3 linked regions of the Homo sapiens genome follow. The protein of the gene in region 2 purifies or fractionates together with the protein of the main gene of each other region. This does not show direct contact. Each region holds a gene or a part of one and is shown on either strand. Other genes may lie near its edges. The genes, in order: PACC1, NUDT9 and LMF1.

What was found.
Region 1: the proteins of NUDT9 (region 2) and PACC1 purify together in Homo sapiens (co-immunoprecipitation; one large-scale study listed by IntAct). This does not show direct contact.
Region 3: the proteins of NUDT9 (region 2) and LMF1 purify together in Homo sapiens (affinity purification with mass spectrometry; one large-scale study listed by BioGRID and IntAct). This does not show direct contact.

Annotation. Positions count from the first base shown.
Region 1 is NC_000001.11:212,376,826-212,380,479, reverse strand, and holds part of PACC1 (proton-activated chloride channel), read left to right. Parts: intron 1-442; coding exon 443-585; intron 586-2,773; coding exon 2,774-2,918; intron 2,919-3,595; exon of another isoform or gene 3,596-3,654. UniProt on the Homo sapiens protein: Chloride channel gated by pH that facilitates the entry of chloride ions into cells upon exposure to extracellular acidic pH. Involved in acidosis-induced cell death by mediating chloride influx and subsequent cell swelling.
Region 2 is NC_000004.12:87,456,610-87,459,955, forward strand, and holds the end of NUDT9 (ADP-ribose pyrophosphatase, mitochondrial isoform a precursor), read left to right. Parts: intron 1-1,233; coding exon 1,234-1,412; 3' UTR 1,413-2,846; downstream 2,847-3,346.
Region 3 is NC_000016.10:853,068-856,072, reverse strand, and holds the end of LMF1 (lipase maturation factor 1), read left to right. Parts: intron 1-808; exon of another isoform or gene 809-966; intron 967-1,366; coding exon 1,367-1,541; coding exon of another isoform or gene 1,542-1,558; 3' UTR 1,559-2,439; downstream 2,440-3,005. UniProt on the Homo sapiens protein: Involved in the maturation of specific proteins in the endoplasmic reticulum. Required for maturation and transport of active lipoprotein lipase (LPL) through the secretory pathway. Each LMF1 molecule chaperones 50 or more molecules of LPL.

The sequences.
Region 1 (3,654 bases), on a different chromosome or scaffold from region 2:
ATTTTGGCTTTCCTCAGCAAGCAAAACCCAAAGCCGTAAAGAAAAGGATTTAAGGTTTTACTACGTTAAATTTAAAGTTTCCATAGGACAAATGACATTGGAAACAAAGTTAAAAGAAAAATGACAGACTGGAAGAAAAGATTGGCACACATAACAGATGAAAGTGATCATCCTTGCTAAATTAAGAGCTTCCATAACTCAAAGAACCAATGAGAAAAGTGGACAGAGGATGAGCTGCATTCAGCTCTGGTTGGGCATCATATGGGGAAAACTCCCCAGGAATGAGCATGAGTCCCAGCCCAGTCCTGTTGTTGGCTAGTGGTCCCTTTGGAGACCACTGGGCAAGGAGCTATGGGCTTTCCAGTCAGTACTTCTGCCCTCAGACCCAGAGGCCTCTGTGTACTCTCCCAGGACTGAGACTCTGTCCTTTTTCTCTCTGCAGAAATCTGCCCTGATTGTCCAGGGGCCCCGGGAAGTGAAAAAGCGGGAGCTGGTCTTCCTCCAGTTCCGCCTGAACAAGAGTAGTGAGGACTTCAGCGCCATTGATTACCTCCTCTTCTCTTCTTTCCAGGAGTTCCTGCAAAGGTGGGCTTTTAGAGTTCACAGTGGGCTTACTGTCTACTTTTTATCTTATTCCAGCTGTGTATGTCCCAAGGCTAGAGACGGAGGGGTGAGGGCAGGGAAGGGAAGGGGCATTCTCAGATGACCCACTGGCCCAGGAAGGGACCTCATGAGCTTGGCCGGTCCACTCAACATCTTATCACAAAGTTAAGCAAATCTGGTGTGGAGGAGCATGCTGGCTCTCCATGCACATAGTGCTGGCTGGTTCTAGAGAGATCATTTGGTCTCACCATTGCCTGGGGCTGCTGAGGAGTAGGGGAAGTTGCCTTTGATTTGTAAGTCCCTTTGAGAGCAAGTTCTTGTGTGGTTCCTTGGTTTCCCCCACAGTGTGCACAGGAACCACATCTTGCCCTTAGTGCGGGCTTAATGTATGTTTGCCTGAAATACAGTTGGTCCTTGAACAACTTGGGGTTTGGGGTTACCAAACTTAACCACTCCTGCCTATGCAGCCAAAAATTTGTGTATAACTTTTGACCCCCAAAACTACTAACAGCCTACTGTTGACAGAAGCCTTACCAATAACATAAACAACACATATTGCGTGGTTATATATATCATAGACTGTATTCTTACGATAAAGTAAACTAGAGAAAAAAAATGTTATTAAGAAAATCATGGCCAGGTGTGGTGGCTCACACCTGTAATCCTACCACTTTGGGAGGCCAAGGTGGGCGGATCACGAGGTCAGGAGATCGAGACCATCCTGGCTAACATGGTGAAACCCCATCTCTACTAAAAATACAAAAAATTAGCCAGGCGTGGTAGCGGGCACCTGTAGTCCCAGCTACTCAAGAGGTTGAGGCAGGAGAACCGATTGAACCCAGGAGGCAGAGTTTGCAGTGAGCTGAGATTGCGCCACTGCACTCCAGCCTGGGCAACAGAGCGAGACTCCAAAAAAAAAAAAAAGGAAATCATAAGGAAGAGAAAATATACTTACTATTCATTCAGTGGAAGTGATCATTGTAAAGGCCTTCATCCTCATCGCCTTCATGTTGAGTAGGCTGAGGAGGAGGTTTGGTCTTGCTGTCTCAGGAGTGGCAGAGGCAAAAGAAAATCCGCACGTGAGTGGACCCAGCCAGTTCAAACCTGTGTTGTTCAAGGGTCTACTGCATCTCTGGTATGAGGATATAAGCTCTGCCACCTCTCTTAGTCTTCGATTTACAGTGATGAATGTCCCCTGACCATCAGAAAGTTCTTGTCTGCTCCACACACACTGCTTTGGGGTCACACCGTGGAGCCTAGAGGGCAGGAGAATTTTCTTCATGTGCCTGAGTTGAGAGGGACTCAGTTCCTACCAGGTCCTGCTGAGCCCAGAGGCTCCATTCAGAGCAAGCAGGGAGGCAGCTACAGGGGCAGGGAGGCTGCTCCCCAGCTGGACATGCAGCGAGCTGCCTCCATTCCACACCACCACTGCTTTGTTCTTCCACCCCAGAGCTCGGAGCCTCTGCCTTAGCATTTTCCACCCTTTCTGCCACCTAGAATTCCCTCTCCCTTCCCTGCTTCAAGCTGGCCATCTTGCCTTCCTCCTGGAAGACTTTCCCCGGGATCCCACCCCCACTCCACGCTCCTTTCGTGAGCTTCCTCGGTATGCTGCTGCAGTTTTTACTTGTTTTTATGTTCGCTTTGATTTTGCTGCATCTGCACCGTCTTGGGGCTGATGCTGTAGGTGACCCATCTGGCTGAGACCTCCCCAAGGAACCCTCTTCCCCTCTTTGGGCCTTCCATGGGAGCTGACAGGCTGGTGAGGGCTTCCTCAGGCTCTGCTGAAGTCCAGAGTTCTCTGAGGAGCTGTGAGCGCCATGTTCTGGGGAGCTTCTGCCAACTTCATTGCCGACAGCTTTGGTAGCCATCGATAGGAATGATGGGAGGAGGGAGGAAGATTTCTCCCACTGGGAGCTTCAAGGATCATGTTCCTGCCTTGAGGCCAGTGACTACCCCTCCATTTGGAAACCAAATGGAGAGAAAAGAGGGATGGGCCTTGCTTTTGCTGGTGACTGACAGCCCTGTTGAGGCAATCACAATTTGGAGAGGAGGCAGGGAGTGGGCAGCATCCTGGTTGTGCCAGCAAAGAAACCAGCTTGCAGTGGGGGCTTCGACTCCTGCTGCCAGACCTGCATTGACCTGGATCTTCCTTCTCCTTCCTTCCTCCAAGCCCAAACAGGGTAGGCTTCATGCAGGCCTGTGAGAGTGCCTATTCCAGCTGGAAGTTCTCTGGGGGCTTCCGCACCTGGGTCAAGATGTCACTGGTAAAGACCAAGGAGGAGGATGGGCGGGAAGCAGTGGAGTTCCGGCAGGAGGTAGGTGGCTCTGGGTTTGCTTGAAACTGCTGGTGACTTTTCCACATTCGAGTCTGAGGTGGAGGGAAGCTTTGCAGAGAAGGCTCCTTTGAGCAGGGCCTTAAGGGTGAGTAGGCCTTGGTCAGGATGAGAAGGGACTCCCATGGAGGGCTTCATATGCTATGCCAGGGAGTCTGTGTGTGCTTCTGCAGGCAGCGCACATACCGGCCAGTCCTCACGGAATGCATGTGTGGGGCAGAGATCATTGTGGCTTGCAGAGAGGTCAGTAACTCGCCCAGCTGTGTCTGATGTCTTGCATCTAGCAGCACTTTGAGGGGCTGGCAGTGGCCTAGCAGATTGATTATTTGCAGGGAAGAGAGACTAGACACAGTGGTCCCAAGTGTGCATGTTGATCCTTTTCCTAAGGTCCTCTTCAGCTCTCACAGGTGTCACAGCGAGAGATGCCAGGTGTATCTCCTGGCTGCTAGGCCAGTGGGCTGAAAGCTTTTTGATCAGATTTCCCATTAGTAAAAACTTTTTGATCATATACTCCATATACATATAACTCTGCAGGTGATATAACATACTATTATTGTCTTAGTGTTATATACACTTTAAACATTCAAAAATAGAAATGTTAAAAGGATGAGATAAAAATAAATAGTAAAAAAAGCTAGTCTTTTCTTCTTGTATCCCAGTGGCTCGGGATGCTCATCTGGAGCAGAAGGACACACTCCAGTCAACTAGGCCATCACTG
Region 2 (3,346 bases):
TTCAAGCTAGTCCAAAGGTCAGCTTTCAGCAGTTAGTTACCCTTTAAGTGTTCCTACCAGGTGCTGACTCCAGCGGTAGGCTTCTCTCCCTGGTCAGTTGTGATTCTCTGTATTTGCCTGTCTCTCCAGTTTTTGGTATGGCAGTGTGGTCTCTACTAAGAATACAAAAAAATTAGCTGGGCGTGGTGGCAGATGCCTGTAATCCCAGGTACTCGGGGGGCTGAGGCAGGAGAATCGCTTGTACTCAGGACGCGGAGGTTGCAGTGAGCCGTGATTGTGCCACTGCACTTCAGCCTGGTCAACAACAGCGAGACTCCATCTAAAAATAAATAAAATAAAATAAAATATTTAAGTAATGTTGCCTTGAATACTTTAATAGGCTTGTCTCTATTTCATCAGAATAAATTCTTCAAAGAGGAATTACTGGATTGCTTATTGTATCTTCAGTGCCTAGTACAGTCTGGCACACAAGATGCACTCTGATATTTACAGAATGAGTGCTTGTCAAAGAAAACTTACTTTTTAAAAGCTCTTGATAAACATTGCCAAATTTCCTACAGAAATATTCCATTTATATTCCCAGCAGTGATTGGGAGCACTTATTTTTTATTTTTTTGATAATTTAAATTTTTTTTTTTTTTTTTTGAGGTGGAGTCTCACCCTGTTGCCAGGCTGGAGTGCAGTGGTGTGATCTTGGCTCACTGCAACCTCCACCTCATGGATTCAGACAATTCTCTTGCCTCAGCCTCCCAAGTAAGCTGGGACTGCAGGCATGTGCCACCACTCCTGGCTAATTTTTGTATTTTTAGTAGAGATGGGGTTTCACCATGTTGGCCAGGCTGGTCTCGAACTCCTGACCTCAGGTGATCTACCCGCCTCAGCTTTGTTTATTTTTTTACATTTAAATCTCTCATCCCTCTTGGACTGATTTTGATGTAAGGTTTCATATTCATGTAATATAATCTCGTTTTTAAGGATAATCTTTTTAGAGAAAACTCTTTGTGTTTATCTAAAATTTAGGGACTTGGTTAAAATTTGGACATTTTGGAATACTCTAGTTTTTTTTCTTTTATTCATTCTGCTGACCAGGGATGGAATGGTCTAGTTTTTAATTCACTTGGCCGGCTAGTACAATGATGATATAAGATTATTTTAAATAAGAATACTTGACGACATAGATATGCTAAAACAGAAATGAGTTTTTCTTGGTGATGGTTTTTCTTTGGCAACCAGGTGAGATAATGGATAATCTTATGCTAGAAGCTGGAGATGATGCTGGAAAAGTGAAATGGGTGGACATCAATGATAAACTGAAGCTTTATGCCAGTCACTCTCAATTCATCAAACTTGTGGCTGAGAAACGAGATGCACACTGGAGCGAGGACTCTGAAGCTGACTGCCATGCGTTGTAGCTGATGGTCTCCGTGTAAGCCAAAGGCCCACAGAGGAGCATATACTGAAAAGAAGGCAGTATCACAGAATTTATACTATAAAAAGGGCAGGGTAGGCCACTTGGCCTATTTACTTTCAAAACAATTTGCATTTAGAGTGTTTCGCATCAGAATAACATGAGTAAGATGAACTGGAACACAAAATTTTCAGCTCTTTGGTCAAAAGGAATATAAGTAATCATATTTTGTATGTATTCGATTTAAGCATGGCTTAAATTAAATTTAAACAACTAATGCTCTTTGAAGAATCATAATCAGAATAAAGATAAATTCTTGATCAGCTATAACTTCTGTTTCATCTAGTTCTTGTTTGTCAATGCCTTCCCTCCCGCTCCCCATCTTCTGAGGCCTGAAGGATGTTCCTGCCACATCAAACTCCTTTAGGCAGAGTACCGCCACTGGATGTATAGTTTAATGTTTCATCTGATTTTTCTTTAAATTATTTCCTTCACATTTTGCTTCACATGATCTTGTTGAAGCTAATTTTGAAAATGGAAACTATGTTTTCTTGACTTTAGAAGCATTAGTTTTAAGAGGAAATTTCAGCCACTAGTCAATAGAGATCAAAATCAGTGAACAAGAGCTGATACTCTCATTTTCAAAAATTCTGAATTAAAAAAAGTCCAGGAAGTTAGTAATTTAAATCAGTATGTTCATTTCACTCTAGTGAAACTACTATATGTTGTAAATTAGTTAAAAATGGATGTTCAGAAAAGAATTGAAATCAGGACAAAAAATTACAGATGCTAGTGAGGTTGTAGAGAAAAAGGAATGCTTATACGCTGTTAGTGGGAGTGTAAATTGGTCCAACCATTGTGGAAGAGAGTGTAGAGAGTCCTCAAATATTTAAAGATATTTGACCCAGTAATCCCATTACTAGGTATATACCCGAAGGAATATAAATTGTTCTATTATAAACACATACTCACGTGTATGTTCATTGCTGCACTATTCACAATAGCGAAGACATGAAATCAACCTAAATGTTCATCAGTGATAGACTGGATAAAGACAATGTGGTATATGTACACCATGGAATACTATGCAGCCGTAAAAAAGAATAAGATCATGTCCTCTGAAAAGACATGGGTGGAGCTGGAGGCCATTATCCTTAGCAAACTAATGCAAGAACAGAAAACCAAACACTGCATGTTCTCTTATAAGTGAGAGCTAAATGGTGAGAACACATGGACATGGGAACAACACATTCTGGGGTCTATTGGAGGGTGGGAGGAGGGAGAGGATCAGGAAAAATAACTAATGAGTACTAGGCTTAATACCTTGGTGATGAAATTATCTGTACAACAAACCCTCATGACACAAGTTTACCTATGTAACAAACCTGCACATGTACCCCTGTACTTAACAACAAAATAAACACAAAGGAAAATGTTAGCCATGTGTGAATTTTAAACTTCTTGGTAGTCACATTAAAAATAAAAAGAAACAAGTAAAATGGTTTGTAATTATTTAATCCATTATATCCAAAATATCTTAATATGTGATCAATATATAATTATTAAGTAATTATTTTGGTTCTATAAAAACAGGAACAGAGGTGGAGGTCTCTGTGAGTTAGTGTTTTTTTGTTAGGAAAGAAATGTTAAAGATTGAAATAGATTTTTGAGAAAAGCATGGTTAATGTTATAAATCCCAGAGGAAAGGAGGGGGTTGGTGCTTTGGGGGTTTTTGGAAGCAAGGAAAAGGAAAGAAAAGTAGTACTGCCTTGTCTTAGTGGACATGTTTATCTCATTCTGGCTAAGGATCTCTGTTGGAAAGCCCTGTGATAGGAACTCCTATCCACCTAAGTAGGGTTGGGCTATAGCTGGAGCATCTCAGGAAAAGCTTTAGGGGAGACAGACATTATTGTTTTCTTTCCTTCAGATGTTTGAAAA
Region 3 (3,005 bases), on a different chromosome or scaffold from region 2:
TCCCTCTCTCCCATCAGGCGCCTCAGGGACCCTCCTCCACCCAGAGGGTCTCTGTCTTCCCGGTTTTCCTGGCGTAATTCAGACTTGGGGAGAGAAGAATCATCATCCATCACACACCCAGACCCAAAGAGACTCAAAGCCAGGAGGAGCCGGGTGGACCCAGAGGCCCTCACCCTGCCAGCCTAAGGGGCATGGCCCAAGGTCTCCACCCCCAGCCCCCAGAGCACAGCTGTGTGCAGGTCACCAGAAGCCCCAAATAATGACAGCAGCCCAGACAGTCGCTACCGGGCCCTGGTGCAGTGTGAAGCCTCTGGCACCTGCCTGGGCTCATTCCAGGGGCCATGAGAGGGTCCTGTTATGGCTGCACCATCACACCCACCGGGCAGCTGGGGCCCAGCTCTGCCATGGATCCCAGCCAGGCAGCAGCCGCCCTGTGGGCTGAGAAGCTTCCGCTCCTGCTGCACAACTGCGAAGGGGCCTGGAGGGCCGGGAGCTTGTGACGGTGACAATTCCTCCTGGCGCCTCCTCCTCCGGGGCAGCCGAGCAACCCTGGACATGAGGGGGCTTCGTCCCACCCCCAGGAGAAAATGCCCAGTCCTCCGAGAGTCCAGTGAGGGCTTGCCAGCCAGGGACCAAGACCCAGTATGGCCTAAACCAGGCCTGGTCACCAGGGGTCAGGCGGGACCTTATACAGGGCTCAGCAGAGAGACCTGCCCGCTACCCTGCTCCAGGGGAGATGGGGGTGGGGGCCTTCATCCCACTCGGGCATGACAGAGGAGAGCAGCCAGCCAGCATCTGCACGTCTCAGGCAGGGAAGGGCCTGAAGCCCTGGGAAGCAGAGGCTCCGCCCTCAGGAAACAGGTCCCGGCCTGGCTCCCTCACAGCCTCGGACTGCCCCGTGGACCGAAACCCCCAGGCACCTTGCGCCAGGACTGGCCTGATGGTGGAGACGCCACACCATGAGCAGTAGGTTCCTCTCCCCACCTTCCCAGGCGGGGGACACTTGGGGCTCAAACTGGGGCCTTGTGAACGGTCTCAGGCTTGCTCAGTGCCACCCGTGAAGCTCCTGGCCTTCCCCGGGCCGGTCCCTCTGCCAAGTGGGCCCTGCTGGGTCTCCCCTCCCGGAGCTGCCCCCCGTCCGCCCTTCCCCCTTGCTGCGCTGTTCACTGCTGAGGGTGCCGACTGGAACAGTTGCCCTGCCCGGGGTCTGCTGGGGGTCTACCTGTGCTCAGGGTGGGGGCTCCTCATGCAGCCCCTCTGTCCGTGGGGGACCCTGTGAGCAGCTGCAGCTCAGCAGCAGGCTGAGGAGCCGGGTCGGGGGCCGGGAGTCCCAGCAGGCCCTGGGCTGACATGTGCCCCCTTGCAGGTGGGTCCGAGGAGAGCACTACAGGTACAAGTTCAGCCGTCCTGGGGGCAGGCACGCCGCCGAGGGCAAGTGGTGGGTGCGGAAGAGGATCGGAGCCTACTTCCCTCCGCTCAGCCTGGAGGAGCTGAGGCCCTACTTCAGGGACCGTGGGTGGCCTCTGCCCGGGCCCCTCTAGACGTGCACCAGAAATAAAGGCGAAGACCCAGCCCCTCGGCGGCTCAGCAACGTTTGCCCTTCCCTGCGCCCAGCCCAAGCTGGGCATCGCCAAGAGAGACGTGGAGAGGAGAGCGGTGGGACCCAGCCCCCAGCACGGGGGTCCAGGGTGGGGTCTGTTGTCACATACTGTGGCGGCTCCCAGGCCCTGCCCACCTGGGGCCCCACATCCAGGCCAACCCTTGTCCCAGGCGCCAGGGGCTCTGATCTCCCATCCATCCCACCCTCCTCCCAGAGGCCCAGCCTGGGGCTGTGCCGCCCACAGGAGTTGAGACAATGGCCATCCTGACACCTTCCTCCACTACAGCCCTGACCATAGACCCAGCCAGGTAGCTCTTGGGGTCTCTAGCGTCCCAGGGCCTGGTTTCTGTTCCCTCTTCAATGGTGTGTTCCCAGCCAGGTCCTGACCCTCAGAGCCAAGTCCCTGTCACGTCTGGGGCAGCCAAACCCTCGCCCCACAGGGACCTGGACACGCCCGGCCAGGATGTGGGGTTGGATGGGCCATTTTCTGTCCTATCCCTCATCTCCACCCCCGCCACAGCCTACACGCATCCCACACATGCAGGCACACACAGCCTGTGCACACATGTGTTCTTGGCCCGGTTTCATCCCCCCATGACTGGTGTCTGTGAGGTGCAGATGGACACAGCGCACACCCAGACCCTCCACCAGGCTGTGACCTCGCTGCCTCTGAGGCCTTGACAAGGCCCCTCAATCGGAGGACAGCCGGCCGTGCACACTTTCATCATCGTCGGACAAACAGCGTCTACTGCACATTTTTCTTATTCCTATTCTTGAGCCATAGCTATGGCATATTCTTCTACTATTCCTATTATACCACTTACCAGCTTACTCGAAAACACACTGTTTAAATGAAGAAGTTCTTGTACCTCCCTCCCCTTGGCGGTGGCCGTGCCCCCAGCCCACACTCTGATGCTGGGGCAGCGGGTGACCGAGCGGGAGCTTGATGGAGAGGTGAATGGGTGGTGCTTTGCCTGGCGACCCTTCCAGTGTCTGCTGCGGCAATACTTGGAGTAAATGGGAATGAGCAGGGGTGCCAGCCCTGCCGGAAGGAGGCAAAGCTCTGGGGCAACGTCCCCCACCCAGGACGCTGTGAGGCTGGGTCCTGGGAGAAGTCAGAAGTGGGCCCCACCATAGGACAGAGGCCCTCCCCTCTCCCCCAGCCTGGGGGGGCGGTTCCCCCACCCACCCCTTCCCCCTGCCTCCATCCACGGCACCTGGAGCCATGATGCCCACGGCTGAGCCACTGTGGGGGGCCCCAGTGGGGACAACACGGTGGTTCAGGCCGAGGAGGGCGGCTGCGGTAGGCACAGTGTGGGTCTGTGTGGAGCCCCCCCTCGGCCTGCCCGGGGGGGACAGCCAGCCCAGGTGCCAACAGAGGGCCCGTGTTCCAGCTCCCGGGGAA